Homo sapiens: one gene and its partners. The protein of the gene in region 4 purifies or fractionates together with the protein of the main gene of each other region. This does not show direct contact. Each region holds a gene or a part of one and is shown on either strand. Other genes may lie near its edges. The genes, in order: CDK19, MED12L, MED9 and MED13.

Evidence for each region.
Region 1: the proteins of MED13 (region 4) and CDK19 purify together in Homo sapiens (affinity purification with mass spectrometry; 8 studies listed by BioGRID and IntAct, with this or other methods). This does not show direct contact.
Region 2: the proteins of MED13 (region 4) and MED12L purify together in Homo sapiens (affinity purification with mass spectrometry, with the first as the bait; 2 studies listed by BioGRID). This does not show direct contact.
Region 3: the proteins of MED13 (region 4) and MED9 purify together in Homo sapiens (affinity purification with mass spectrometry; 6 studies listed by BioGRID and IntAct, with this or other methods). This does not show direct contact.

The regions. Positions count from the first base shown.
Region 1 is NC_000006.12:110,609,465-110,616,481, forward strand, and holds the end of CDK19 (cyclin-dependent kinase 19), read right to left. Parts: intron 5,203-7,017; coding exon 5,071-5,202; 3' UTR 514-5,070; downstream 1-513.
Region 2 is NC_000003.12:151,080,868-151,088,665, forward strand, and holds the start of MED12L (mediator of RNA polymerase II transcription subunit 12-like protein), read left to right. Parts: upstream 1-4,796; 5' UTR 4,797-5,069; intron 5,070-5,787; exon of another isoform or gene 5,788-5,930; 5' UTR 5,931-6,059; coding exon 6,060-6,158; intron 6,159-7,798. UniProt on the Homo sapiens protein: May be a component of the Mediator complex, a coactivator involved in the regulated transcription of nearly all RNA polymerase II-dependent genes.
Region 3 is NC_000017.11:17,486,992-17,493,738, forward strand, and holds the end of MED9 (mediator of RNA polymerase II transcription subunit 9), read left to right. Parts: intron 1-4,287; coding exon 4,288-4,504; 3' UTR 4,505-6,230; downstream 6,231-6,747.
Region 4 is NC_000017.11:61,964,256-61,971,280, forward strand, and holds part of MED13 (mediator of RNA polymerase II transcription subunit 13), read right to left. Parts: intron 4,004-7,025; coding exon 3,780-4,003; intron 2,397-3,779; coding exon 2,207-2,396; intron 1,214-2,206; coding exon 751-1,213; intron 1-750. UniProt on the Homo sapiens protein: Component of the Mediator complex, a coactivator involved in the regulated transcription of nearly all RNA polymerase II-dependent genes.

The DNA of each region.
Region 1 (7,017 bases), on a different chromosome or scaffold from region 4:
GTAACAACCATAGAAGATTCATCAAACAAATTATAGAAGGAGCAGCCAGGTACCACAGAGTGCTCTTATAAAACAAGAAACTCCCAATCCAACCCCATCCACAAAATGCTTATTAGTCTTTTCTAATTCTCATTTATATTTTTTTAAAAAGATGTTTCTCCTAAAGATGTATAAAAACCTGCAATTTTACTTATGAGGTATTTGCAGGCCTTGCTTGCTTTGCAGTATTATGACATCATAGCATCCTGAACAAAATAACATATTAGAACTCACAGAAAGACTTCGTATCTCTGCAGGAAAAGTGTAATTATAAAAGCTTCTAGGCACACAGATAAAATTTTAACGCTAGATGGGGTCTCACTATGTTGTCCAGTCAGGTCTCCAACTCCTGGCCTCAAGCAATTCTTCTACCTCAGCCTCCCGAAGTGCTGAGATTACAGGCATGAGCCACTGTGTCCAGCCACTAAGCCTTATTATAAGATTTTTTTTATATTTAAAAAATCCACACAGAAGCAAAGTCAATTAAATTTTATTTCAACCAAGAATATAAAATAAATGCAATGTAATTTATTTTAGTTTTAACAGTCATTTCAAGAAGGAAGTCAGGTCAACTCAAAAGCAGGAAACCCTCGCTCCAAAGCAGTAGCTCGTCCTGCACTCCATGGAGCAGGCCTCGCTGGGGTGCAGCGGCTCTGAGCACAAACCTCGCAGTGGAGCACGAAAAGCTACAGTCATCTCTATAACCATATAAAGGGGGATGCGTGCAGAAAATGACTGAAAAAAGAGACAAGAACAGGTACACTTCACAAATAGGAATTATAGGAATATACAAACTAGGCAGTTTAGAAAGGATATACTACATAACATATATAAAAAGTACTTTAAATTGTTGTTAAAAAGGACACCTTCAGTCCAGATTTTGTGTAATACTTTTAGTGTCTACACAGACAAATCTTTAAAAAAATTAAATAGTATTAATTTACTAAATATTTAGGAGATAACAGTGCATTAAGGGTTTTTTTTTTTATATAATACATACATATCACCCCTTTGCAGTGATAGCATAGAAGAGTAAGTATGGCCTTAGGTACAACACGTTTTTTAAAAACCCTAAAACAATGAACTTTGTTATATTTGTGACTATTTTTGAGGATTATGGGGACCTAAACTGCTATGTTTTATACAAAATATTACTTGTACTTGAATCCTTCAAGCCTCTGTTGGTCTAACTGCCATTTCACTGCCTTTCTCTACTCCCTAGGAAGACATCATCATAGAGTTTTGGATTTGTAATTTCCATAGAATTCTTCCTTCATTGTATAGTTTCTGCTGCATAAATTTACTCAAAAGCACATCAAGTTGCATGTCTTATTTTCCAACTATTTTTTTCTTTTCTTTTACCTTTAGCAGAGAAAACAGCATCATTTTAGAGGCATAGAGAACAAGTAGCAGTTGCTTCACCAGGAATGAGGCAGCACACATAGGTAAATGTCATCCCTTTCCATTCTTAAGAGTCCATTATGTTCGTAAGAGCAAAAGAGTAGTGCAGAAGGCCAAAATTCTAAGTACTAAAGTTTCAAAACCACAGAGATATAAAAATATACATAATCCTTGGTCTTTGTATGTCACTGCATGATCTACTTCATCACAAGGATTGTTTCAGCCTCATAGTATCAGCCCTGCTGCCAAAGCTACCTTACCTTGAGCTCATCTGTCCTGCAACACTTGAATTCCTTTCACAAACACACACCTCCCCAGAAAGCTAACTCTGAAACTGGTTTGTAACACGAAGAGCAGAAAGCCTTCACTTGGATTCATTCCTTCCTGTCAATAACCCCTCCTAGTTTGGGTGTTCCCATAGGCTGAGGGATGCCCCTCCTGTACCCTTGGGGGACATAACAGTATCTAATAAATTTCAAAGAGAAATGCCATCATTTGGGGACCACAAAGGTAAAGTTTGCCCTCAAAAAGCTTCAAAGGTCTCCTTAGAGGTCCCACGGTTTGAGGGCCCTTACGTGTGTTAAAAAGGCTTTGTTCCCAACTGGGTGCGGTGGCTCACACCTATAATCCCAGCACTTCGGGAGGCCGAGACAGGCGGATGACCTGAGGTGAGGAATTCAAGACCAGCCTGACCAATAGGGTGAAACCCCATCTCTACTAAAAATACAAAAATTAGCCAGACGTGGTGGTGCGTGCCCGTAGTCCCAGCTACTCGGGAGGCTGAGGCAGGAGAATCACTTGAACCTGGAAGGTGGAGGTTGGAGTGAGCCAAGATCGTGCCACTGCACTCCAGCTTGGGTGACAGAGCAACACTCCGTCTCAAAAAAAAAAAAGGCTTTGTTCCCCTTTAAAGGAAAGAAAATGATCCAAAATTATTACTAAGGGTAAAGGGAATCAGTGGGTAGCACGAACCCTGAGGCAAGGAAAGAGGAGAAAAGAGCCAGTACCAGTGCAGGGATAGGAACTCAGTCATGTGTGGAATGGAGATTTCTGGCTATGTCCTGGAGGATATTGTATACTGGGAGCAACTGACGAAATCCCCTTACAGTTTATATTTCAGTTCTGCCAGCAAAAGTCATTATATACAAGGAAAACAGGGTAGTTCTGTGAATGTATAAGCGTAAGAACTATTTAACAATGCTGCTTATAAAGTATTAAGGGGCATAGTATTTTGGTTTACATATCTATCTGGGTTTGTCTTCTTTTATTAAAGGTAACCTCCTTGAGAGCAAGAACAGACCTTCTATTTTCCTTGCAATTTCCTACAACCACTTAGGAGAGTATGTTCTGCCTACAAGGACCACCCAGTTGTTGTTAAAAGGCTGCTGTGAACATTTCAAAGATACGTCAATGCCTTTTGTGATATTGAATCACTGGCTTTCTCTAAGGTAGACTGACATAGAAACCCTTCCATAATATTATTTACAGAACAGATTTGGGGATAGTAACTACCCAAGTGGGTTTAGAAGTAAACAAAAAGACCTTCATATTATAAGACAGTTTCACTTGTAAGTCAATCACATGGCACAGACATCCCAGGAGGGCTTACTGTCACAGATCACAAGCTCCTTAAGGACAAGAAGTATGCCCTGTCCTCTGTGTTCTCTACCCAGCAGGGCACCAGGCACATGGTGAGGGTGCAATAAGCATCTGATGACCAACAGCTCTGGACAGTGAGGCTTTAGGGCACAGGATAAAACTGCATATAGGCAGCTACATTATGCAGAGGGCTGCTAATTTCTTATTTTAAAAAATGGAAGGGGTAAAACAGCAGGAGACTATCAGAAACTCCTTCCAATGGAGCACGTAACCTGCTTCATCTTCAGTCTTGATGAGTGTCACTATGCAGACTTCATTATTAGTGAGCATTATTATGCTGAGATCAGTAAGGTCCTGGCTGGCTACAGTATCACATCAATAGTGCAAAATGTATACTGGCTTCTGTCTAATCTTATTTTACTTGTGTATGGACCCACAGTATCATAACCAGGTAGATAAGTTCAGAAAGAATAGTTTTTAAAAATGCATGTAATTTGCATATACAATAATCAGCTATTTCTTCTAGCTCAAGAAAACATTTAAAACAAGGCTGGTGCTGCTAGTAGCATTCAGAAGAACACAAATTTCTTGCCCCTTACATTACAATGGGAGCTCTAAGTTTTTACATTTCCTTTTGACTCTGGGGAGTGAGGGGCTCCTTAAAGCAGCTAAGAAAGAACTCAGCCACTAATTCATAGATAATGGAAATGCAAATATTCACTTTGTCTAGTATAGTCTTATACTATCCGCCCATAGTTTTTAGGCACAATTATTAAGTTTTCTCCTAGGGGCAAAAGAAATCATTCAGTGCAATGAAAAAGATTCTTGATAGAATTAAGTTTCAGTAACAACAGCAAAATTATGCATACATAATACATACTTTAAACATGAATAAAACCTAAATTTTTAACATGCTTTAAAAATAGTCACTCTATATCTAATACAAATACGAATGGAGAACACTGCTCTTTATTTTAAAAGCAGATTAATTTTCAGGCTTCTACTTGAGTAACCTTGATTATGCAAGAAAGTTACTCACGCAGACCCAGATGTGAAGAAACCAATGGTTCTTTAGAGAAGCCGACTTTATGTACAATACACACTAAAAACTTTTCCTTCAAAGGGAAGTAACACGTCTTTTGATCAAAATTACTCCTTACAGAAATCCTAGTGCAGTTGTTACTCTCTTCAGCGTTTTGGTGTGGGCCATCGAGACTGTACAAAGCTCTTGAAACCCTTTTTAAGGTAGACTTAGCTACATGAAGGTTAAAATTGTAATTCTTAATTACTGAATGCTATTCAGAATAAGATGATGCTGGGAACTCAGTTCCATATGAATGATTCTATAAAAATTACCACATACTTCAGTTCTTCGTGGCATAAAGCACATAACTGCAAAGATCTAGGCAGTTTTTGGTTGTAGGTTCCCTCTGTCCCACCGCTTGTCTTTTTATTAGACCTTCCCTGAAACTAGATAAATACGAACGTAATAGTAAAGTACTTTGGGACAGTAACAGTTTCTGTTTAAGACTTCCATGAGCAGAACAGTTATTGTCTGTGAAAACGTAGTGCTTTAAAAGGTGCATTTTTACCTGTGTTGCTAAATCAGTTCATGAAGTATAAAACTATACACCACTGGAATCCTGTTTCTAAAACATTAAAATCCTATTAAAAGAGCTTTGAAAAGATAAACCATAGTGATTGCTACAGCATGAGAAAGGTGCACCAGGAAATCCTTCAAAGAAATGCTGAAGGTTACAGAAGTGCTGGGATTAGATCAGACGCTTTATCAGAGAAGTCACAATGGAACACATGCAGGGAAGGGGTGCTGGGGAAACTTCACAAGAATCTTCTTTAAGTCAATAAAGAAGAGCTATCAGTCCTGCACAATGCTCAGTATATAAGGTTTTCCTCCCATGTGTATGAGTTTTAAATGGCATCATAGTTTGCATTTTTTTGGTTCTTTTCAATGCAGACATATTGCTGGAGCCTGTGCTCTGGGCTGGGCTGGCCTGGCCCAACGGGAGCTGGTCAGTACCGGTGGGCCTGGTGAGATGGGTGGTACTGTGAGCTCTGCTGAGACGAGGAAGAGTAGCCAAGTGTGCTCTGGGACTGAGAGGATCCCTGAACGCTGCTTTGGTAATTCAGGCGAGAACTGGAGTGCTAGGAGAAGGAAACAGGAAAAGGGAATTACTGATGGAGGAAGAGGATGACTCAAGATGCTCATCACAGTAGGATAGAGATATAAGCCGTTTTCATTAGGTTCCTGGTTCAGACACACATAGCTGACAGCTAACTTAAGTTGTTAACACATTTTGCTTATTTGAAATCACAGCCTGCCACCACTGTAACCACACATTCTGGCAGGCATGAAATTTGGCTAGATTTTTGTGGGAGATAAGCTACACTGGAAAGAAAGGAAAAGGGGAAATTTCAGCGGACCCATTTCTCTTTATTCCAATTCTGGGGTGTAACAATCCTTTGCATAACTGAGACGTGCAAACAAGAATAATCAATTTGGCATACTGAAATCAATAGTATTCATAATGTATACTGACATGCTATTATTTTTCCCATTATAAATAACAAAGCTGTGATTAAGAAATCATTATTTTAGAGCAAAGGGTTTTCAGAGGTAGAAGCTAGGGGTATCAGGAGTTCTACCTACGAGACAAAGTAAGGCAAGATTAGGTGGGGTGCGGCAGCAACATGTGGGTTTTATAAACTTCAGGTAACATTTAGAATAAAGCAATTTTCACATATGATTGTCTTCAAGAGAAGACAGAAAAATGCATTTCAATTCAATGTATTTTTATTACATTAAATGAAACCTTCATCTTCATAGTACCTAACGCAAATACAAAAAAAATGTGTAAAAGGAAAAATCATCTATAGAATAAGAACAGTATGTAAGAGACAAGCATAGCTGGAAGTAGTATCTTTGGCTATATTCAGAAGGCTGGTTTTTCTTGTAAGCAAAGTGGGAAAGAATATATGTAATAAAGCTATTACTTTTGAAACTTCCTTAGCAAAAATTAAACAGCAAGAAAATTATGACAGTGAAAGAGATCTGATTTAACCCACTCCATCTTGCCTTTAACCTCCAAACTGTTCTTGGTCATTGCTGGGCATGGGCCAAGCTAACTTTGGGAGAAATTTAGTTTATAGTTTAAACGACAATAGTCCATCCCAAAACTAAACTGCCTTTATAAAACTACTAAAAGGCCACAAGTTTAGGATTATGAGAGAGGCCTGAATTCTGCTAAGATGTAGGTGCAGTTAAACAATTACCAGTCATTGTTCTGGAGGTCAATTGGCTACTCCCCAATTACTCCTGTAAATAACATCACTATTGTCAACCTTTTCAGAAGGCTTTTCAGACTTTTGCATTTCGGATGACTCCACCCAGACTGAGACTCATGACTCAACCAGTCCTGTGGCCCCCACCCAGAAGTGGACTCAGCACAGGAAGACCATTTTTCACACCCCTTTGATTGCATCCCCAACCAAGCAGCAGTAGTCATTCCCTAGACCCCTGCCCACCAAAGTATCTTTGAAAAATCCTAGCCTCCAAATTTTGAGGAGGCTGATAATAAAACTCTGATGTCCCATTTAGCTGGCCCTATGTGTATTAAACTTTCTCTATTGAAATTCCTGTCTTGATAAATTGGCTCTATCTGGGCAGCGAGCAAGAAGAACCTGTCGGGCGGTTACACTTTGAGTTAAACATGTAAATTATCTTGAGGTGGCACTGGGGGTTTAGGAAAGAACAGATCAGCAAGGTCCTCCTGCTCAGTGCTCAAAGGCTGCCAAACGACTTGGAATATCTGGTCCAAGATAACAGGGCACTAAGGTAGTTTTGGTTAAAAACAACTCAGTTGTGGCTAGGCACAGTGGCTCACACCTGTAATCCCAGCACTTTGGGAGGCTGAGCTGGGCAGATCACCTGAGGTCAGGAGTTCAAGACCAGTCTGGCCA
Region 2 (7,798 bases), on a different chromosome or scaffold from region 4:
GTAAGAAAAATGGAAAGTAAGCAAACTGCCTATAGACAATCTGTTAACAAAACACAGTATATACACCTGGACACGCAACAATCCCATGAGGAAAGCTAGCAACTTTAATTACTTTACCTACAGGCACTACACTGAGAATTGTTTCTTTCCACTTGAGTGGAATTGTGCTGCTATGCCAGAGTGAGCTGTCAGGAGTTTTGCTTCTCTTATACCAGAACTGTCTTCAAAGGCTCACCTTTATGTGTTATGTAAATGATAATTAATACATGTAACACATTGACAACAATAATAAGCATAAGTTTGGGAGTCAGAGAGATTCTAGGTTTGATTCTGGCTTTGCTAGTCGCTAACTCAATGGCCTGGGAACAGCAGCTTCACCTCTGGAGCCCTACCTACTAATCTGTAAAATAGGAATAGGAATAGTAGGACCACTCCCTTCCCTTCCCTTCCCTTCCCTTCCCTTCCCTTCCCTTCCCTTCCCTTCCCTTCCCTTCCCTTCCCTTCCCTTCCCTCCCCTCCCCTCCCCTCCCCTCCCCTCCCCTCCCCTCCCCTCCCCTTCCCTCCCCCTTCCCCCTCCCCCTCCCACTTCCCCTGCCTTTTCCTTCCCTTCCCTTCCCTTCTCTTTTCTCTTTTCTTTTTTCTTTTTTTGAGACAGAGTCTCTGTTACCCAGGCTGGAGTGCAGTGGGGTGACCGCCGCTCACTGCAACCTTCACCTCCCAGATTCAAGCGATTCTCCTGCCTCAGCCTCCCAAGCAGCTGGGACTACAGGCATGCACCACCACGCCCAGCTAATTTTTTGTTTGCTATGTTGGCCAGGCTGGTCTTGAACTCCTGGCCTCAAGTGATCCACCCACCTGGGCCCTCCCAAAGTGCTGGGATTACATGTGTGAGCCACCATGCCCAGCCAGGACCACAGTTTCTGATGGGTAAACATCCTGCCTCTGCTCCTAGCCATTCTTCACTCTCATTTAAAAAATCTGCTCTGCTGCCAGGTGCGGTGGCTCATGCCTGTAATCCCAGCACTTTGGGAGGCCAAGATGGGTGGATCGCTTGAGGCCAGGAGTTTGAGACTAGCCTGGCCAACATGGCAAAACTCCATCTCTACTAAAAATACAAAAATTAGCCAGGTGTGGGGGCATGCACCTGTGATCCCAGCTACTCAGGAGGCTGAGGCAGGAGAATCGCCTGAATCCGGGAGGTGGAGATTGCAGTGAGCAGAGATGGCGCCACTGCACTCCAGCCTGGGTGACAGAGCAAAACTCTGTCTCAAACAAAACAAAACAAACAAACAAAACAAAACAAAAAACAACTTCTCTGCAAATGATTGTGTCTCTGCCTTTCACCAAAGAAATTTTATTCCTCACTTCAAACTTTTTGAGAGGGTCACTGACCTGAGCATTTGACATTCATCCTCTGCAGTTTGGATGAACCTGAGGAACTGGTCTCCGATTTAGACTATTGAACTTTCAAGGTGGAGAATTGTGGCTTGCAGAGTGTGTTCATGGTGGGCAAGGACAGAAGGCTGGTTAGAAAATGCCTGCACTAGCGTATGTACAGGCAAAGGACATTTGTGTATTTCTGGCAGACCAAATGTAGGGAGAGAAAGCCAGCCATGAGCTATATTGAAGGGATTTGCCCAAAAGCACAAATGGATACCAACTGTGAGGGACTCCTTGCAGAATGCTGAAAATCAGGGCTTTCAGAGGGAACATAAGCAGTTAGGGAATCTTTGAGAAACCCTTGAATGTGACCCAAGAAAAAGGGTCAACTTTTAAATACCTGGTAACCCTCAAAAGCAGCAGTGAAGACTCAGCTTTATACTTGGAGGATATAGCACCATATGCTTAAAATGGTTTGTAATTCATTCACCTTTCTCCAGCCACATTTCAACCCCATTTCCCTGGATAGCTATACAAAACTTCCTTAGGAACCTGAACTCATCCCTTCTTGCTAGGCTGAGGTTCAAGGCTGGGACCTATTTGGGGAGCCTCTGGTCTTCTCTAATTTCTGTTCCATGCAAATTTTTCCTGGTCCCAGGGAATCATTAGCTAGGTAAAGATAAAATACCCCTTAGGAACAGTATCAGCTAGAACCCACATTATTCAACGAGAATGTTTGCCTGCTATATTAACCAGCACCACGTGGGAAATTCAAGCACTGTATAGAACACAGTGGGTTACAGGTTAAGCCCATCATGATGAGCTGATCTTAGTCTGCTTAAAGACCTGGAATGGAAGAAGGGGACCAGGAGGAAAAGGTGAGAATGAGGCAACAAGACTATTCTGTGTGACACATTCAAATGCATGCCAATAAATAAGTGTTAAGATAATAAAAATTAAGTGCTAAGGGCACTAAAAAGCCAAAAGATCACCTTTTGCCAGGGGAATTTGAAGGGGCTTTGTACAGGAATCCGTACTCTGAGGACTGTAGAGGTGAGTATTTGAAGATGAAGAGCCTGGGAATTCCATATTAGGAAAGGAAGCTAACTAGGGCAAGAGGTTAAGGAGAAAAAGCTGAATTGCTAGGTAGGGGGTAGATTACAAAGATTTCCCAGGGTAAGGAGCCAAATGCCCATGGGAAATCCATGCAGTAAAATAATGATTCCTAGGGGAAGCTTCTAAGCATATTAAAGTTTTCAATATTTATTTATTTTGTGTTGAGAGGGTCAAGGAATTCATGCCAGACTGTTTCAGGAGAGGGAGTTAAGAAGGGACAACAACAGGGAGAGGGCTATTATTTTCCCTTCTTCCCAAACACCAGGGGCACACTACTGACACATTTTGATTTTAAGATAAAATTCTTATGGGCAGATAAGATTTTAAGTGCTTCAAAGTGTTTCAGTTGGAGGCGCTTGCTTAGGCATCCCAAGGGAAGAACTGAGATTACATTTCTCCCCCAAACTAGGGGTGTTTGATTCAGTAGCAGCGCAGGCTGTTATTCCCAAAGTACCACTAATGATGCAATCATCAGTCCATCCACACATCGCCTACCTATCATCCATTCCATAAGCCAACATTTTTGAATGCTCACCATGTGTCAGGTCCCATACAGTGTTTCTGAGTTGCAACAATGAGTAAAACTGTCCTTACTAGTGTATGTCAGTGAGTTGGGAATGGGGGAGAAAGATGAAACAAAAATAGTAACTTTAATTTTTATAGCTGAGAGATGAATATTTGAGGGCTCCTTATATGATTTCTTCAGCTTTTTGTATGTTTAATAATTTCCCTAATAAAGTTAGATAATAAAAAAAACCCTTTCGGCCGGGCGCGGTGGCTCACGCCTGTAATCCCAGCACTTTGGGAGGCCGAGGTGGGCGGATTGCGAGGTCAGGAGATCGAGACCATCCTAGCTAACACTGTGAAACCCCGTCTCTACTAAAAAAAAGAAATACAAAAAAAATTAGCCGGGCGTGGTGGCGGGCGCCTGTAGCCCCAGCTACGCGGGAGGCTGAGGCAGGAGAATGGCGTGAACCCAGGAGGCGGAGCTTGCAGTGAGCCGAGATCTCGCCACTGCACTCCAGCCTGGGCGACAGAGCGAGGCTCTGTCTCAAAAAACAACCAACCAACCAAACAAAGAAAACAACAACAACAAAAAACTGTCCTTTCTTTCAAACAAGGGAGCTACATTTGATAGATGCCTGTATCACAAGGGCAAGTCCAGCCATGAAATTAATCCCAGGATATTAGTGGAAGAGAAGACCCTGGGGCAAGATGGGGAAGGTGGTCAGGAAATGCCCTCCAGTGAAGTTAGGTAAATGCTCTCTAGAAGTAATTGTTCAGATTAAGGAAGCCAAAAGCTAAACACCTGACTCAGCCTCAAACTGGGTTTGGAGGTGCTCACAGGTCAGGATCAGGAGTGAGGAACTAGCCTCTACCACATTACCTTCACTTTATTTATCTCCTTCTTCCCCCTTTGCTTAAATGTCAACGAACATCAAAGTTGATGTTCAGATTCAACCAGCATTTCCAGAGCACCTACTATGTATCAAAGGCTTCCGGTTAGAATCTGCCTTTACCACCTTACAGAGAGGGAAGGCCGAGAATGCCTCAAGCCGTGGAGAACGTGAGTCCATCAGGCAAGGACAGGTTAGGAACCCAGTCCCTCCAAGTCCAAGTCAGGGAAAACAGGTCAGAAACTTAGAATCAGTCGTGGGTTCAAATTCCGACTCGTTTCGTGGCTTTCGGCAAGTGAGTGGTCCTCTCTGAGCTGGCTCAATTTCTCCATCCATAAAAAGGGTACAGTAAGACCGTGGAAGGTTGTAAGGACCAGAGATTCTGACTATCAAGATCCTGGCACGTAGCGAAGGCTCCATAAATGGCAGCCATCATTCTTGGCCAAGTGCGGGCGCATTCTCCCGGGCACGCCTCCCGCGGGGTCCCTCAGGACAGGCCGAGCCCGCCTCCGCGGCTCCGGTCTCGCAGAGCTCGCGCCAGGTGGCCCAGCATCTTGGTGCCCGCGCCCCGAAGCGAGGAGCGAGGGCGGGTTGGATGACCAAGGTCTGCCCTGGAGGATCACCCCCCCCGCCCCTTCCACGCTCCCGGCGCAGGTGAGGTTTTCGGCCCAGGCCACGGGGACCGCGACCTCTGGGGAGGTCGAGGCGGAGGGTGCAGCGGGGGGCTTGGAGCAGGGCTCCAGAGGGCGCTCCCTCCCTCGCCCAGGTTCACCCCAGGGCCAGCCTCGGCGCCGGGGCCCGCGGGCTGCGCGCTCTGCGGCTGCGAAAACCCGGAGAGGCGGATTGGAGCGCGCTCACCGCGCTCTCAGCCAACTCCTCCGCGGTCCGGCCGCCGAGCTGGGCATGCTCAGTGCGGACGCCGCGCCGCCGTCCGCCAACTCGGAAGCTCGCGCTCCCGGGCCGTGGGGGCGAGAACGCCGGCGGCGAGCCGGCGTCGCTCGCCGCCCCCAGACAGTGGCAAACTTCGCGGCGTTCCCGGAGCTCGTCCGGGCGAGGCAGATACCGCACAAATAAAATCAAATCCAAGTCCCCCATCCCAACCCGAATGATGGAGGCTGCGGCGGCCGGAGTGACCCCGCCGCCGCCAGCCCCAGCCCGCTAGCCGCGGACCAACAGGTAAAGTGTTGGGGGTTGGGGGCGGAAGGGAAGAGGAGCTGGGGCCGTGGGGAGGCGGCGGGCTGGAGGAGCCCGAGACGCCTGCGGGCTGGCTGCCCCCGTCGGCGCTCACAGCCATCGCTCCTCACCCCCTTCCCCAGCCCCTGGAGGGACTGTAAAGGGTTAAGTCGGCCCCACGCCACCGTGAGCACGGCCCCCTCCAGCCGCCGCGACCGCCAGCAGCGCGCCTCGGCGCCTGCCCGGAGCCGCCGAGGGGACCGTAGCTGCGGATGCGCCACTGGAACCTGGCGGGCGTCTAGGAGGCACCGGCCGCTTCCCACCGGCCGCATCCCTGCGTCTCGCGCCCCCTCCAGACCTGCCTCTGCCTGCACTGGCCCGGTCCGTGTCCAGGTGGCGGGGTCTGCGGGGCGCGTGGCGGCGGGGGAAGGGTCCCTGCCGGGGAAGAGAGGCGGGGGCGGTCCGCTCCACAGCTTCTTCCCGGGAGGGGAGGGCCACCCTCGCCTTGGGCGAGCACTTCAGCCACCAGCCTAGGCGCCAAGAAAAGTTTTTTTTTTTTTTTTTCCAGTGCCCCACCCCCACCCCCATCCTGCGCCCAGCTGGGGTGGGTTTGGGTCCATTGGTGAAAAAAGTCACACGTTCCCATCAGCTGCTCCTCCCCCTGGAGACAAGGTAGGGGGGAGCAGAGGAGGCAGGCGCCGCGGAGGACCCTGGCCGACCTCTAGTCCCTCCGCCGCCGCCACCGGAGCGGTGCGTCCCGGGGCTCGAGCGCAGCCGAGTACCCGCCGAAGGCTGTCCCCATCAGTGCGTGTCTGCTGCCGGGCAGCGGCAGCATCCAACCTGCTTTATTCCTCCTGCCTGCAGCGCCACAGCGAGCGAGCGAGCGAGGAGGGGGAGAGAGGGAGTCTGTCTGCAAAGTGCTGCTCCCTGGTGCTCAGAGGCGGCTGCTCCAGCTCCAACTCTCATTCATTTCGCCGGTTAACATGAGAGATCATGGCCGCCTTCGGGCTTCTCAGCTATGAGCAGAGACCGCTGAAGCGCCCCCGGCTCGGGCCGCCCGACGTCTACCCACAGGACCCCAAGCAGAAGGAGGTAAGGGCGCCGGCGGCCTCCCCGGCAACCGGGGCCGCGCTCTGCAGCACTGACCCGGGGCCAAGTTGGCCCAGCGGGCATCGCCGGCGCTGCGGTGGAAGAGGTCGGGGAGGGGGATTAGAGGCGGGGGCCAGGCTGGGGGTGCTGGGCGACCCCCCGGCGGCGGAGACCGAGCGGCTGTCAGTCCCCGCGCTCCACTGGGGCGCTCGCTTTCCATGTGCCGGTCGCTTTCCCGTTGCCGGGCCTTGCACGGCGCCGCCGGGCGCTTCTCGGGCTTCTTCCCTGCCGAAACCTTGCTCGCTCTCACCCGTTTCTGCCTGCTTTATTTTTCTTCTTGCCGCTTCGGTAAATCGTCGTAAACTTTTTGAAAAATGTTGGAATGCAGTGCATCCTACACTGAGGTCTTGCGTTTTGCTTTTGCTGGCCAGGGACGAAGGTGAGGGGGAAGCTTTTCAAATTTTCCAGTTTGGAATGGAAGTCGTTTTTATCGAAGTGATAAATATTTAGCTCTCTGAATATACCTCTGTAACCCTTCTGCCCTTTAAAAATTAAAATTAAGGAGAAACACTGATTTTCGTCTCTAGAGGCAATGGGCTTAATTGCTAGAGGCTGTTTTGTATACGTAAAAGCAGGCGAGTTACCTTGGGAGGGAATAGTTCCCAGGATTGCTTATTTCTTTGAATGAGATTAATTGGAGACACCTTGACTCTTGCACCAGCTACATTAGCTTCAATGGCTAGGGTAACCATGGCATTTTGTAGCTGTGTATCTGTTTGTCAGGAGTTAACAAGTAATTATGTAACAAGTCTCTAGTTATAATGATCACCTTTGGCTACACCATTTGCCCAGGGACTTGCCTTTTTTTTGTTTTTTTTTTGATCACCTGCTACCCAGCAGTGCTTTCTGAGTTTGCCAGCTGCAGTCCACCCATCTTCTGTTCAGCTAAACACGAACTGACCATATTTCAAAACTTACCTTTCTGAGAATCTAAAAACCCTCCATTAAAAGTTTGTGGGCCCACTGATAGCACAGAAAGGGCCTTGTAAACCAGGCAAGGAGGGGTCCTTAAGACTTTCCTTTTGATAAGTGTATCTTTCATTAGGAGAGTAAGTGCTTGTTCTGGCTAAACTGTCTTGCTTATAAAGTGTCTGAGAAGTAAGGAACAGCAACTCCTTTTAGAGGTTTAGCACACTAAATATGCTCTAGCATCAGTGGAGTCACGCAGATGAAAGCTGGGAAGGTTTTACAGGTGGTTTCCAGCACCAGCTTTACAGGATGGTAGAGGTTTGAGAAGATTTCCCAGATTTTTTTTCCTACCCGTTACCCCACCCTGCTACCCCAACTTAGAATGAAGTTAATGGTTAAGGACTGGAAATAATAGAGAAGCTGAGGATCAAGTGTACAGTTAATAGCTTAAAAATTATTGGGAGGAAATTCTTAAAGTTTTGATAGGGACAGGGATATTTTGTTGGTTGAACTTTATCATCTTGTAATTAATGTCTTACTCTGTCTTTCCAGAGGGCAGCATAATTGATGGCATGATGGCTTGGGGTGCTGTGTGGGCTTATTTAGCATTTGTTCTTCAGGCCAATGCTCATTTCACGACTGGGGCCTCTGATTCTGGAAAGAGTAATTTTGGA
Region 3 (6,747 bases), about 44 Mb from region 4:
CAATCGGCACTCTGTATCTAGCTCAAGGTTTGTAAACACACCAATCAGCACCCTGTGTTTAGCTCAAGGTTTGTGAATGCACCAATCGACACTCTGTATCTAGCTGCTCTGGTGGGGCCTTGGAGAACCTGTGTGTCCAAACTGTATCTAACTAATCTGATGGGGACGGGGAGAACCTTTGTATCTAGCTCAGGGATTGTAAATGCACCAATCAGCGCCGTGACAAAACAGGCCACTCGGCTCTACCAATCAGCAGGATGTGGGTGGGGCCAGATAAGAGAATAAAAGCAGGCTGCCGGAGCCAGCAGTGGCAACCCGCTTGGGTCCCCTTCCATGCTGTGGAAGCTTTGTTCTTTCACTCTTTGCAATAAATCTTGCCACTGCTCACTCTTTGGGTCCACGCTGCTTTTATGAGCTGTAACACTCACCGCGAAGATCTGCAGCTTCACTCCTGAGCCCAGCGAGACCACGAGCCCACCGGGAGGAACGAACAACTCCAGACATGCTGCCTTAAGAGCTGTAACGCACACCGCGAAGGTCTGCAGCTTCCCTCCTGAGCCAGCGAGACCACGAACCCACCAGAAGGAAGAAACTCCGAACACATCTGAACATCAGAAGGGACAGACTTCAGACGCGCCACCTTAAGAGCTGTAACACTCACTGTGAGGGTCCGTGGCCTCATTCTTGAAGTCAGTGAGACCAAGAACCCACCAATTCCGGACACACAAGTACATAAGGGTATAAGTACAAGATGTTCACTGTCATTCTAGTACAGTACAACCACCCATGAATAGCCAGGGTAATTTCGCTGTCTAATTGTATATGTGTTAACATGGAAGGACATCTGAGGTGCCTTGTTAAGTAGAAAAAGCAAGAATGAGAACTATGGATGGTCACATTTCTGTCAGAACAAATAAGAAAAGTTTGTGTGTTTTGTATGCTGTTGTACATTTCAAAGCCATCTGAAACAGTGGACACCACATGTTAGCAGAGGTTATCTCTGGAACAAGGGGTTAATGAGATTTCCCTTTTCTAAGCCTTGGTTGTCTCATTTTTGAATTTTTTCCCTCAAGTACCTATTACTGTCATTTTTTAAAAAAGTGATCTTAGAAAAATGAAAGCCACTGGAGTTAGTACCGTGCGAGGAGAGCCTGTGGGCAGAGGAATGGACTGGTAAGGGCTGGTCTGAGGGCAAGGCAGCTGGGACAGAGTGGAGTGTGAGGCACAGTGCATGGAAGTTGTGAGGAAGAAGAAATGGGAAACTGAGTCAGATGCCACCAAAAGGTCAAAAGAAATGACTGTCAGATTTGGGAGGAAGTCTGTGTCAGTGGTTCTAGCAGAGTTATTGGCCAGTTTGCATCTGTACTAAAGCATCCATGCTAAAAAGAAGAACAAAGAAAATCAGGGCATGATTCTCAGACACCTGCCTAAAACCCTGTGATGTTTGCCTTTGAGTCTGGTGACACGGATACAACTGTCTGTCAGACGTGGGAAGGATGCTCAGAGGATCACCCCTGGCGGTAGTATTTTTGTCCACTCTTTAAAAAAACCATAGTAGGGGGCTGGGTGCGGTGGCTTACGCCTGTAATCCCAGCACTTTGGGAGGTTGAGGTGGGCGGATCACCTGAGGTCGGGAGTTCGAGACCAGCCTGGCCAACGTGGAGAAACACCATCTCTACTAAAAATACAAAATTAGCCGGGCGTGGTAGCGCATGCCTGTAATCCCAGCTACTCAGGAGGCCGAGGCAGGAGAATCACTTGAACCCGGGAGGCGGAGGTTGCAGTGAGCCAAGATCGCACCATTGCACTCCAGCCTGGGCAACGAGTAAAACTCTGTCTCAAAAAAAAAAAAGAAAAAAAGAAACCACAGTACCACAGTAGTTGGGACCAAAGTGCTCTGACCTTGCCTTGTTTGTACGATGTTCATCCTCCTTGACCTAGTGGCTTTTTTCATTCCTTCTATAGTTGGCCGATGACTAACCTTGAACACAAAGGTAGGCCCACTTAGAGCTTTCTGCTTTTATTCACTCGGTATTTGGTCCTGTCCCTTTTCTTTTGGCTTGAATATTTCACAGTCATCCTGGCTTAGCAGATGCCCACTTCTGAATAGCATGTTCTCTTCACTCCAGGAGTTCCATGCTATTTACCTCCACCAACTAGGGCAGTTGGGCTTGCAGAGGGGCCTCCCTGTGGGCTGCATGGCCCCTTTTGGCTCAGCTGCCCTCCAGGCGGCTTGTCTTACAGCTCCTTTTTTATTATCTGAAGACTGTCTCCTTTCCTGAAAGTTCACCAAAGAACACGCAACCCTTGCTATTTGGGGGTTTTCAGAGATGAGCATCTTAAACATGACCCACTTTCAACTTTCAGAACTAAATTTTCTTTTGGGCCAGGTTATGTTTGCTTCAAGAATGGGATTATCTGTCATCCACATTTCTATTTTAAGTACTTTTTTGTTTGTTTTACCATGTCCTTTGAGACTCATGTGAGTCGGTTTTTTTAAAAACTATATTTTAATTTTAAAACTTCCTTGGGACTTAAATTCGTAACGGTATGTTAACACGCATGCCATCCGAGTAGAAGGATTTCAGAAGTGCAGATGGTTTCTGTCCACATTTGTGGATCAGAGCTGAGACTTCAAAGAATTAAAATAAAAGACGTTCCCTATTTGCTTCCTTCCAAAGGATTTTTAGTTCTCATGAATACCAGTTCATCCTCTCTAGAATCTGCGATAAGGTATACTGTTAATGGTGTCTCTCAGTTGAGGGCATCATTTCCTGGCCTCTCATTTCCTGGAAGAAGTGATTGATTCTCCATACCCTCCCTCTGAGTTTAGAGCTGTTGGTAAATACTGAGCTGGCCATGGTGGCCATCTGATTTGCAAGGTGTGAGACGTAACTGATGGATCGCCAGGAAAGATGGATATTCTGCCTGCGTAAGCAGAGAAATGATGAATAGTAAACATGAATTAGCACCATCTGGGTTGAAATTTCCCACTACGGATGAACATTTATTTGAAAAAATTAATGATCATTGACAGTTTTTCCCTCTTATGCCTCAATGGCTTACTTTCAGAACAGCTTACTGAATTGCCTTTTAGTTTTGGTCTCAACCACTTGTTTTCAAAAGCTCATCCACTTACTAACTTTTAAAAAACGTATAGGAAGCTGAGTGTGGTGGCTCATGCCTGTAATCCCAGCACTTTGGGAGGCCGAGGCAGGTGGATCACCTGAGGTCAGGAGTTCAAGACCAGCCTGGCCAACATGGTGAAACCCTGTCTCTACTAAAAATACAAAAATTATCCGGGCGTGTTGGCATGCGCCTGTAATCCCAGCTACTCAGGAGGCTGAGGCAGGAGAATTGCTTGAACCGGGACCCGGGAGGTGGAGGTTGCAGTGAGCCGAGATCGCACCACTGCCCTCCAGTCTGGGCGACAGAGTGAGACCCTGTCTCAAACAAACAAAAAATGTACAGGAGCAACTGCCAGGCTGTTTTTTTGATCTTAAGTGAGATTGTTCTTGCCTCGTTTTTCATTGAGTAGGACCTCTGTGCAGCTAATAGCTGTGAGATGGAGCGAACCGTCTGCCTTGAAAGTGAACTTGACTCAAAGACAAGGACTGTCCATGACCATGGTAGAAGAGAGCCTGTGTCTGCTGAGACATTTAAATCAGTTCCATTTTAACTAATCTAACATTTATGAACAGCTCTGTGGAAATTAGTCTTTATGTTAACAGGTTCAAGCCAGCATCAAAACCTCAGCTAAAATTAGCTCTTGCTAACTGATAAAGCCTCCTGATTGGCCTAGAAATGGCTCCAGTTAGACAAAATGTCGTATTTCAACAAGTTTTGTTTGGCATTTGTCACCTGATATTGGTATTGGTTTGTTCATTGAACCAACATGTTCATGAGCTTATTTGCTAAGCATTCATTCTTTCCACGGACATTTCTTGAGTGCCTGTAGTGACCTACACACTGGGCCGGGGGTAGGGAGACACCTGTGACCAGGCAGACATGGTCCTTGACCTCAGAGTGACAGTTGACTTGACAGAAGATCAAGAGTGTCTGTGTGTGATCTGCAAGTGTGCTAGGCCTGGGAGCTCTGTGCCAGCTGCCTAAAAAAGAACCCGTCCCTGCCCTCTGGGGGTGGACAGCCTAGTCAGGGGATAGACACATAAAACGAAGTGTTCTAAAAGCTATGGCAGGAATGACAGCCAGCTCTAGGGGGTGCAGGGCAGGAACGCCAAGACGTGTATCAAGCTGTGAATGCTAACAGCTGTTCTTCCCCCACAGCATGGACAAGGACAGCCCGGAGGTCCACCAGGACCTGAACGCCCTCAAAAGCAAGTTCCAGGAGATGCGCAAGCTCATCAGCACCATGCCCGGCATCCACCTGAGCCCCGAACAGCAGCAGCAGCAGCTGCAGAGCCTCCGGGAGCAAGTCAGGACCAAGAATGAGCTTCTGCAAAAGTACAAGAGCCTCTGCATGTTCGAAATCCCCAAGGAGTAGAGTGAGGCTGACTTCCTTAGAAAGAGGGGGAAGCCAATGGCCTGTCTCCCCACTACCATCCCCAAACGCTCCTTGGGGCGTGGTTCCTGTGGACCCCAGCTCAGCTCGTCAAGCTGCAGGGGCGGGGCTCCTGTGCTGCTGCGCGCGCTTCGCCTGTGCGGGAGCCAGCGCAGAGCTTGGCTGCGCCGGGGGTTCCTCGTGTAGATCCATATGTCTAGATGCATAATAACTGGAGTGCCTGCTGGTGGAAGTCAGAATGCTCCTGGAGGCTGCAGAGGGGGTGGAGGACTCTCCCCTGCCTCTGGGGAGGGGGCCATCTGCTGCGCCCGGCCCCACTGACAGATCTGAAGAGCACAGTAGGAAGGGAGGCGGCTCCTCTTTGCTTCCTTCCCTCTCTCTCCTCCCACCCCCATAGGATCAGTGTGTACCAGGTACACATTGTTCCTGTTAACAGCAGCTTCTTGAAACATTTGCATAGAATTCACTGGACGAATTAAGCCTGCACTCATATGGCATAGAATTGTGAGAGAATGTTTTGAAAGGCCAGAGGGTGGCCTTTTTCCCCAAACAGTTTGGTTCCTTTTATGTTTGAGCCAGTGAAGGGAACTACGCTTTGGGGGCTTCAGCCTAGAGCCCTGCCAGGCAGCCCCTGGCTCCAGGTTCCCTGCCTCCTAGCGCTCTCCTCGCCTTCAGCTCTTGCTCCCTTCCTCGTTCATCACCCTCAGTCAGTGCCCAAGAGTGGCCAAACCGCTTCACATCTGCAGTGCTTCCCCAGGGTTGACAAGGGGCCGTCCTTTCCACACAGGCCAGAAGAGGTCTTCAGGCGAACCGACCTTCCCCCTTCTGGCATTTCAGATTCCCCTTGCTCTGGTTAAAAGGTCTTTCCCTCGTGGCCTTTGCACTTGCGGCAGCAACGTGTACTACACTGCAGAAGGGTTCAGTATGCACCTTGTGTTGAGAGAGAGGCAACCCTGGGGGCCAGTTCAGGTGGTCCCCAACCATAAGCTAGGTCTGAAAGTTACACAGCCAAGTTTGAGCTCTTAAAAGTTGATGAACAGCCTCATTTCCCCAGCTTCCCTGATTTCTTCCAGATGGGACGTTTTATTTGTGTGCTCTCCCTTGACTGTCAGATTGAAGTAAGAGCAGTTCTCTCCGTTGCCTCTCGAGGAGGAGGTGCGAAGTCCTGGAGTATTGTTTGGGTCTCGGAATGGGCGCATAACCTGCGCTGACCAGTTTAGGGGCTTAGCAGATGCCTGCCAGCTGACCTCGTTGGCAGGAGGGTTGGGTGGAGATGTTTTTAGCAGAGCTTCCATTAGTGTAGACCTGTAGCCACCTGTCAGAAGGTGGGTGGCATATTGGGGACCTGGGAATGTGTGAAGGAGGAGATCAAATTTCAGTGGCTTTGGACAGAAAAGAAGGCTCTGGATTTAAGCGGGTGGTCACCTGTGAGACCAGGTCTACCTTGGGACTGTTATTTAACTGAATCAGTTATTTCCTTGAAATTTCACAGTAGTGGGTGGGCCTGTTTTAAGGCTCTGACAGATACCACGAAACATGAAGCACGTGGAACTACAAGACCCCCGGGGTCTTTCTGAGTGCAAGGCTGAAATGGACAAGGGCTCCTCACGGGGGTGGAGGGAGCCGGAGCCTGCCTTGTGTTCCTTTTTTGACTTGTGACATTTTTCAAACACATAATTAAAAGGACTTATGCTCTGCTGTCTCAGGACATAATGCTTTTTGTACTGAGAAATTCATAGTGGGATGGCTCTCAGATAGTTGAGAGGAAAATGTTTCTCTCAGTCTCTTCAGACACAACCACACCTCTGCTCCTCACTCCCTCCGCCCCAGCACACACACCCGCCCCAGCACACACACCCGCTGAACCAGTGTGGAACAGGAACTCCTCTCCCGGCTGGCCTCAAGGGCAGTTTGCCTGGCGGGTCATCCCTGGGCTGTCCTTAGTTGCCTTTTATTTTTGGAGGGGGGAGGTGGGGGGTGCCTTTTGGTGACTCGAGGAGGTTCAGTCCTGTGGGGAGCCGCCCTCACCAGAGCAGGGTTGAAATCCTTCTAGGACAATTTTGAGTGTCTCTCACAGGGCTGAGCGTCCTCTGAAAGCCACCAATTACTTGGATTACTGGGTGGCCGGCATTTATGCTAAGTACTTTTCAAACATCACACTTAATCCCCACAGTGAGCCCATGCCGAGGGTGTTCTCTCTTCCCGGGGTGAAGAATTAGAGGCTT
Region 4 (7,025 bases):
TCATTATAATTTTATACATAAAATATTCAACACTAGGCCGGGTGCGATAGCTCATGCCTGTAATCCCAGCACTTTGGGAGGCTGAGGCAGGCAGATTGCTGAGTCCAAGAGTTCCAGACCAGCCAGGGCAACAGGGTGAAACCACATCTCTACAAAAAAGTAGCTGGGCATGGTGGTGCATGCCTGTAAGTCCCAGCTACTCAGGAGGCTGAGGTGGGAGGATCACCTGAGCCCAGGAGGTCGAGGCTGCAGTGAGCCGTGATCACGCCACTATACTCCAGCCTGGGTGACAGAGTGAGACCTTGTCTTAAAAAAAGATACAAACTAAAATTTCAAGACTAAGATAAAAAAGCACTTTATGCTCATTCAAAACGTCTTATTTAGAAAAAAAGCAGCATGGCTGGGCGTGGTGGCTCACGTCTGTAATCCCAGCACTTTGGGAAGCCATGGTGGGTGGATCACCTGAGGTCAGAAGTTTGAGACCAGCCTGGTCAACATGGCAAAACCCTGTCTCTACTAAAAATACAAAAATTAGCCAGGCGTGGTGGCACATGCCTGTAATTCCAGCTACTAGGGAGGCTGAGGGAGGAGAATCACTTGAACTCGGGAGGCAGAGGTTGCAGTGAGTGCAGATCCCACCACTGCAGTACAGCCTGCGCAAAAGAGTGAGACTGTGTCTCAAGAAAAAAAAAGAAAGAAGCAGCATCATAGTTTTTATATTTCTGCAAAAATCAGTATTTTTAAAGGTACCTTTCAGACACATCAGGATGCGGCTGAGTGGGAAGTGAAGATGATTCTCCAGAAATCCCAGCTGTCTGTAGAGCTGATGTCTGTTGCCCTCCTAGCTGACCACTCTGAACTGTATTTGCTTGTGTAGACATGGATCCTGCAGCATTACTGTTCATACTGCCAAAGGGTGGAAACGAAGGTAGTTTATTTGATGATACTCCACTATTCAAGTTGGAGGATGATGAAGATGAAGTTGAAGCTGTGGTCAAAGTTGAATTAGCTGTGGCAACTGAAGTAGATATGGCAACACCTGAAGTCACTGTCATAGTGCTGCTCGCTGCAGATGCTAAGGTGGCAGATGGAGTATTAGCATTTCCAGTATTTGTCATCTGAGGTGGAGTAATCAAAGACTGACTTGTAGGGGCAACTAAATTTGGCTGGGAAAGTAGAGAGCTGTCCAATGGCAGGGAAGCAAGATAAGGACCTAAAGAATAAAAACAGGTACGAAATTTAATTCTTTATTTCACTGACTGGTTTTTTTAAATTCTACTGTGTAAACAGAATCATAATCCAGTTGATGTTTTCTTGGTAATTATAGCCCCGAAATTGCTTGCTAATGGTGTGACCTACACTTGCTTTCTATTTTCCCCTAGAGACTGAAGAAACATATTTAAAATGGAATTGAAAAAGCCAGAATTTTCACTCAAAATTAAAGAAATGATTACTATGAAAGTGTAACAAAATTCTATTTTCTAAGTATAATTAAATGTAAAAAAGGTATCTAGCAATATTCATCAAACTATTCAAAGGGTTTCTAAATCACAAATCAAATAAATATTGACTACATTGACAGCTAATTAAAATATAAAATGGTATAATGTTATGGGGTTCAAATTATAGGAATGTCTAATGAGATTCAATATTTTGGTTCTGCATCTCTTTGGATTAAGTCTAAAGGAAGTCCACTGATCTTTATTTTCAAGAGTATTTATAAGCAATACAGTTAGGCACGGGTAGAATGAAAGAAAAAAAGTATGTAACAAGCAAGTCTTAAACAGCTGTCGTTTTCTTAGCTACAACAAAGAACTATTTCTTGGTTTGGTAGAGATTAACTATAAATTATTTTATCTCTAAACTGTAACAAATGAAGAATCTTCAAGTTATTAAAACATCAGACCCTACAGAGGCAACAGAAAATTTATTTATAACCCATAATTTCTTCCTACCTGATGGGATCCCTCATTAGGGATCAGCAAACTTGTTCTGTAAAGGGTCAGATAATAAATATTTTTGTCTTTGCAGCCACACAGTCTCTATGAAAACTACTCAGCTCCAATGTTGTAGCACAAAAGCAGCCAGAGAAAATACATAAATGAGGATGGCTGTGTTCCAATAAAATTTTATCTACAAAAACAGCTGGTGGAGCAGGCCACATTTTGCTAACACCAGCCTTATACAATAAATACAAATTCAATACCTAGGTCATATCTGCAGACTTGTGCATAAAGCTTGAGTTTAGAAAATGCTTCATTGTTACCGTCAGCTGCCTGAGAAAACCATTCTGCTACCAACTTTTCTGATAGTTTCTTTGATGCAGTAGATCCAACTCTCATGATCCCATCTGTTAACAGTCGAGAAACAGGTCTATGTTGACCTAATCGACAGGACTACAAATATACATACAGAAAGCAGAATTAGTAAATTTATTATTGTATTTAGATACACATTATAAAACCAACCATGAAAGCTACTTAAAATAAGCTTAACCATTTGCAATTAACAGTTATGATAAAAATATCAAGGGTGTTTTTAGAAGTAGGCCAAAAAAATAAACATATCAAGGGTGAAATGGTGCCATAGGTCTTTTTCATTTTTACATTAGAAATTCATTAATTTTTTTTCAAAATTAAAATATCTCTAATGAAAAAACACCTAGATAACAATAGTACTAGAACCATTTTGTTTGAATAAAAGCTTGCAGAATGCAGACATAAGTGAGCATAAAAATGCAGTCATTTTAGGTATACATTAACACCAATTCATGAATTATGAATACAAATATCCCTAAATCAAAGCAAAATAAAAATTGTTATACAAATATATTTATACACCTTCTCCCTCTAGTTCTGTGAGTCACTGATTTTTGTTATTAGAAGCCCAATGTTAAATAAATTTAAAACATTGGATTAAGCAAACTTAGAAGAGTTCTTTACTGTAAGAATTTCAAAGCCTTTAAAAACCTAATATGAATTGTAAATCTCTAAAAGGTAATATAATATACAATGTTTCCCCAAGCCTATTTAACTATGGAACTTTTTCTCTGAGAGGATTTTACCGGACTGATATTCCAAATAACACCCTTTGGGAAATGTTTATTTATTAAAAACACACTACAAATACCTTGTAATTATGTGGAAAATTTTAAAAGGAAGCTAAACTAACATACACTAACATTCAGATTGTATAAGGAATCAAAATTTAAAGACTAAATTTCGAAGCCTTTGTGGAAAAAGGAGGGAATAATAAAGTAAGACTTTATGTCCCATAACACTTATAATTTACAATTATTGCGCCTGGTGATGGATATGTGAGAATTATAACTTAAAAGAAGAGGCAAGAATTTCAGACCTGAAATGGACCTTAGTGATATCTAGCATAGATTTATTTTACATATGAGGAAAGTGAGGCCTAGTGTCACTACCTGAAATCCTAGAGAATAAAGACTAGAATTTTTGTAAATGTAACTTTTTTCCTGGCTATTTAACATTGTTACCCTTTGTTTTAGAAAAAGCCACATTAAAAGGGATATATATCTATATGCCCTCAATGTTTCTTCCTCCTATAGGGGGATAGCCACTCTGACCCACGGCATACACATCTAACAGACTGGGTCAAACTCAGCAAAGAATGTAACTGGCTAGTATGAGAAATAAACATCTAATCTGACATCATCACTGTGTCCCAATCAACTGAACTGCCCAGTATGCTGTATATACAACAATACAAATCGTAAGGTAGTTTTAAAATGTCATCTCTTTTTAAACACCTACCTCATATATTGCAGTAAGATCTCTAAAAAAGCTTTTTGCTCCATTTAACAAGGCTTCATTTTCTGGACACAGTACAACATAGGCTATATCTCTTTGAGATCCATAGGGTTCCAGCATAAGTCTCTCCCAATAAGGAAGAGCAAATGGAGAAAGCACCAGATAATCATAATCATAACCCAACAAAAATGTGGGGATTGGCAGTGGTTCTGGGGATTCATCAGTTCCTAAATAAGAAAGATGTATTTTAAGAAAACACTTAAAAACAAGACATGTCTCCTTTTTATTTATTTATTTATTTATTTATTTTTTGAGACAGAGTCTCGCTCTGTCGCCCAGACTGGAGTGCAGTGGCGCCATCTCGGCTCACTGCAAGCTCCGCCTCCCGCGTTCACGCCATTTTCCTGCCTCAGCCTCCTGAGTAGCTGGGACTGCAAGTGCCTGCCACCACGCCTGGCTAATTTTTTGTATTTTTTAGTAGAGACGAGGTTTCACCGTGTTAGCCAGGATGGTCTCGAGCTCCTGACCTTGTGTCCGCCCACCTCGGCCTCCCAAAGTGCTGGGATTACAGGTGTGAGCCACCATGCCCGGCCTCCTTTTTATTTAAATGTCAAAAGTTAATGAAGTCATTATTAGTGAAAATATTTTATTAGAGACAAAAATACTTAATGCCAGTGGTCAAGACTTTTCAACATTAAGGAATTTCCTAAACAAGTCTTTTTATTTACTTATTTTTTTGAGACAGGGTCTTGCTCTATTGCCCAGATTAGACTGCAGTGGAACAATCACGCCTTACTGCAGCATTAACCTGCTGGGCTCAAGCAATCCTCTGTCCTCAGCTTCCCGAATAGCTGGGACTACAGGTGTGTGCCACTATGCTTAGCTAATTTTTAAAGTTTTTGTAGAGATGGGATCTTGCTGTGTTGCCCAGGGTGGACTCAAACTCCTGAGCTCAAGTGATCCTCCTTCCTCAGCCTCCCAAAGTGCTGGGATTACGTGCAGGAGCCACCACGTCTGGTCTGCATTTAAATTTTTGGCATGGGGCTGGGTGCAGTGGCTCACACCTGTAATTTCAGCACTTTGGGAGGCCGAGGTGGGCAGATCACCTGAGGCTGGGAGTTTAAGACCAGCCTGACCAACATGGAGAAAGCCTGTCTCTATTAAAAATACAAAATTAGCCGGGCATGGTGGTGCATGCCTGTAATCCCAGCTACTCAGGAGGCTGAAGCAGAATTGCTTGAACCCAGGGGGTGGAGGTTGCGGTGAGCTGAGATTGCACCAGTGCACGTCAGCCCAGGCAAAAAGAGCAAAACTCCATCTCAAAAACAAACAAACAAAAAATTGGCATAAAAATACACTGTAGGCCAGGTGCTGTGGCTCATGCCTGTAATCTCAGCACCTTGGGAGACTGAGGTGGGAGGATTACTTGAGCCCAGGAGTTTGAGGCCTAGGCAACATAGTGAGACACCATCCTTATTTATACATTTAAAAATAATATAATTTAAAAAATAGAAAAAAGAAAAAACCTTACTAAGAGCGCAGATCTCATGTTAAGTGTTCTTTCTTTTAGTTTTTTTTTGTTTTGTTTTTGAGACAGTCTTGCTCTGTTGCCTAGGCTGCAGTGCAGTGGTGCGATCTCCACTCACTCCAACCTCCACCTCCTGGGTTCAAGCAATTATCTCACCTCAGCCTCCTGAGTAGCTGGGATTATAGGCACACATCACCATACCGGGATAATTTTTGAATTTTTGGTAGAGATGGGGTTTCACCATGTTGGCCAGGCTGGTTTCAAACTCCTGACCTCAAGTGATCTGCCCACCTCGGCCTCCCAAAGTGCTGGGATTACAGGCGTGAGTCGTCATGCCTGGTGAGTGTTCTTACCATAATAAAAAAATTTTTAAAAGAAAATGACCAACAACCTAATAGAAAAATGGGTTAAGAACATGGAGATTACAAAACAAAACTATCTCTAACACATAAAAAGATGCTCTTTCTCATTAAAAAAGCAATTTAAAATTAATAATAGCAAACAATGATAATTCTATGTGCTAGGTACTGTTCAAAGCTCTTTGCATGTACTAACTCATTTAATCCTCACAAAAAACATAAGGCAGAAACTATTATTAACTTCATTTTAGAGATGAGAAAACATAAATGAGGAAGTTAAGCAATTTCTCTAGCATTTCACAAGAAGTAGCAGAGTAGGAATTTAAACCCAAGAAATCTATCCCCACAGTCTGTACTATTTAATCTCTCAAACTATAATGGGAAATAACCATTTTTCATCCACTGAATCAGCATCCTACTAGGCAAGGCTTTGGGAAAACAGGCACTTTAACTGGTGGGAATTCAAACTGATATTACAGGGGCTGGGCATGGTGGCTCACGCCTGTAATCTCAGCACTTTGGGAGGCCTAGGTAGGTGGATCACTTGAGGCAAGCAGTTCAAGAACAGACTGGGCAAGATGGCAAAATCCCATCTCTAGTAAAAATACAAAAATTAGCCAGGTGTGGTTAATGCATGCCTGTAATCCCAGCTACTCGTGAGGCTGATGCATGAGAACTGCTTGAACCTGGGAGGCAGAGGGTGCAGTGAGCTAAGATCATGCCACTGCACTCCAGTCTGGGCAAGAGAGTGAGACTGTCTCAAAAAAAAAAAAAAAAAAAAAAAAGGCATTACAGATAGTTATTTAGGTTTTTTTTTTTTTTTTCTTGAAATACACGTCTGGGTGCTTATAATCCTAGCCCTTTGGGAGGGTGAGTTGGGCAGATCACTAGGGCCCAGGAGTTGGAGACCAGCCTGGGCAACATGGCAAAACCTCATCTCTACAAAATATACAAAAATTAGCTGGGTGTGGTGGTGAGCACCTGTAGTACCAGCTACTTGGCAGGCTGAGGTGAGAGGATCACTTGGACCCAGGAGGTTATGGCTGCAGTGAGCCATGATTGTGCCACTGTACTCCAGCCAGGGTGACAGAACAAATCTCAAAAATAATAATAATAAATAAAATAAAAATACACCCATGCTTTAAAGCCAGGGATCTGTGCATTACTGAAAAGTAGCTGTAATGATAATGGTGGTAACAATTTGTATGTTCATAAACACTGCACTGGTAAAATATATTATCATATGTAAGGAACAATGGAATACATATAGCCATAAAAAAAGATAATCTCTATATGTGCAGATAGAAATGATCTCCAAAATCAGTTAAGGTACAGAAATAAATAAATAAATATCTACTTTTT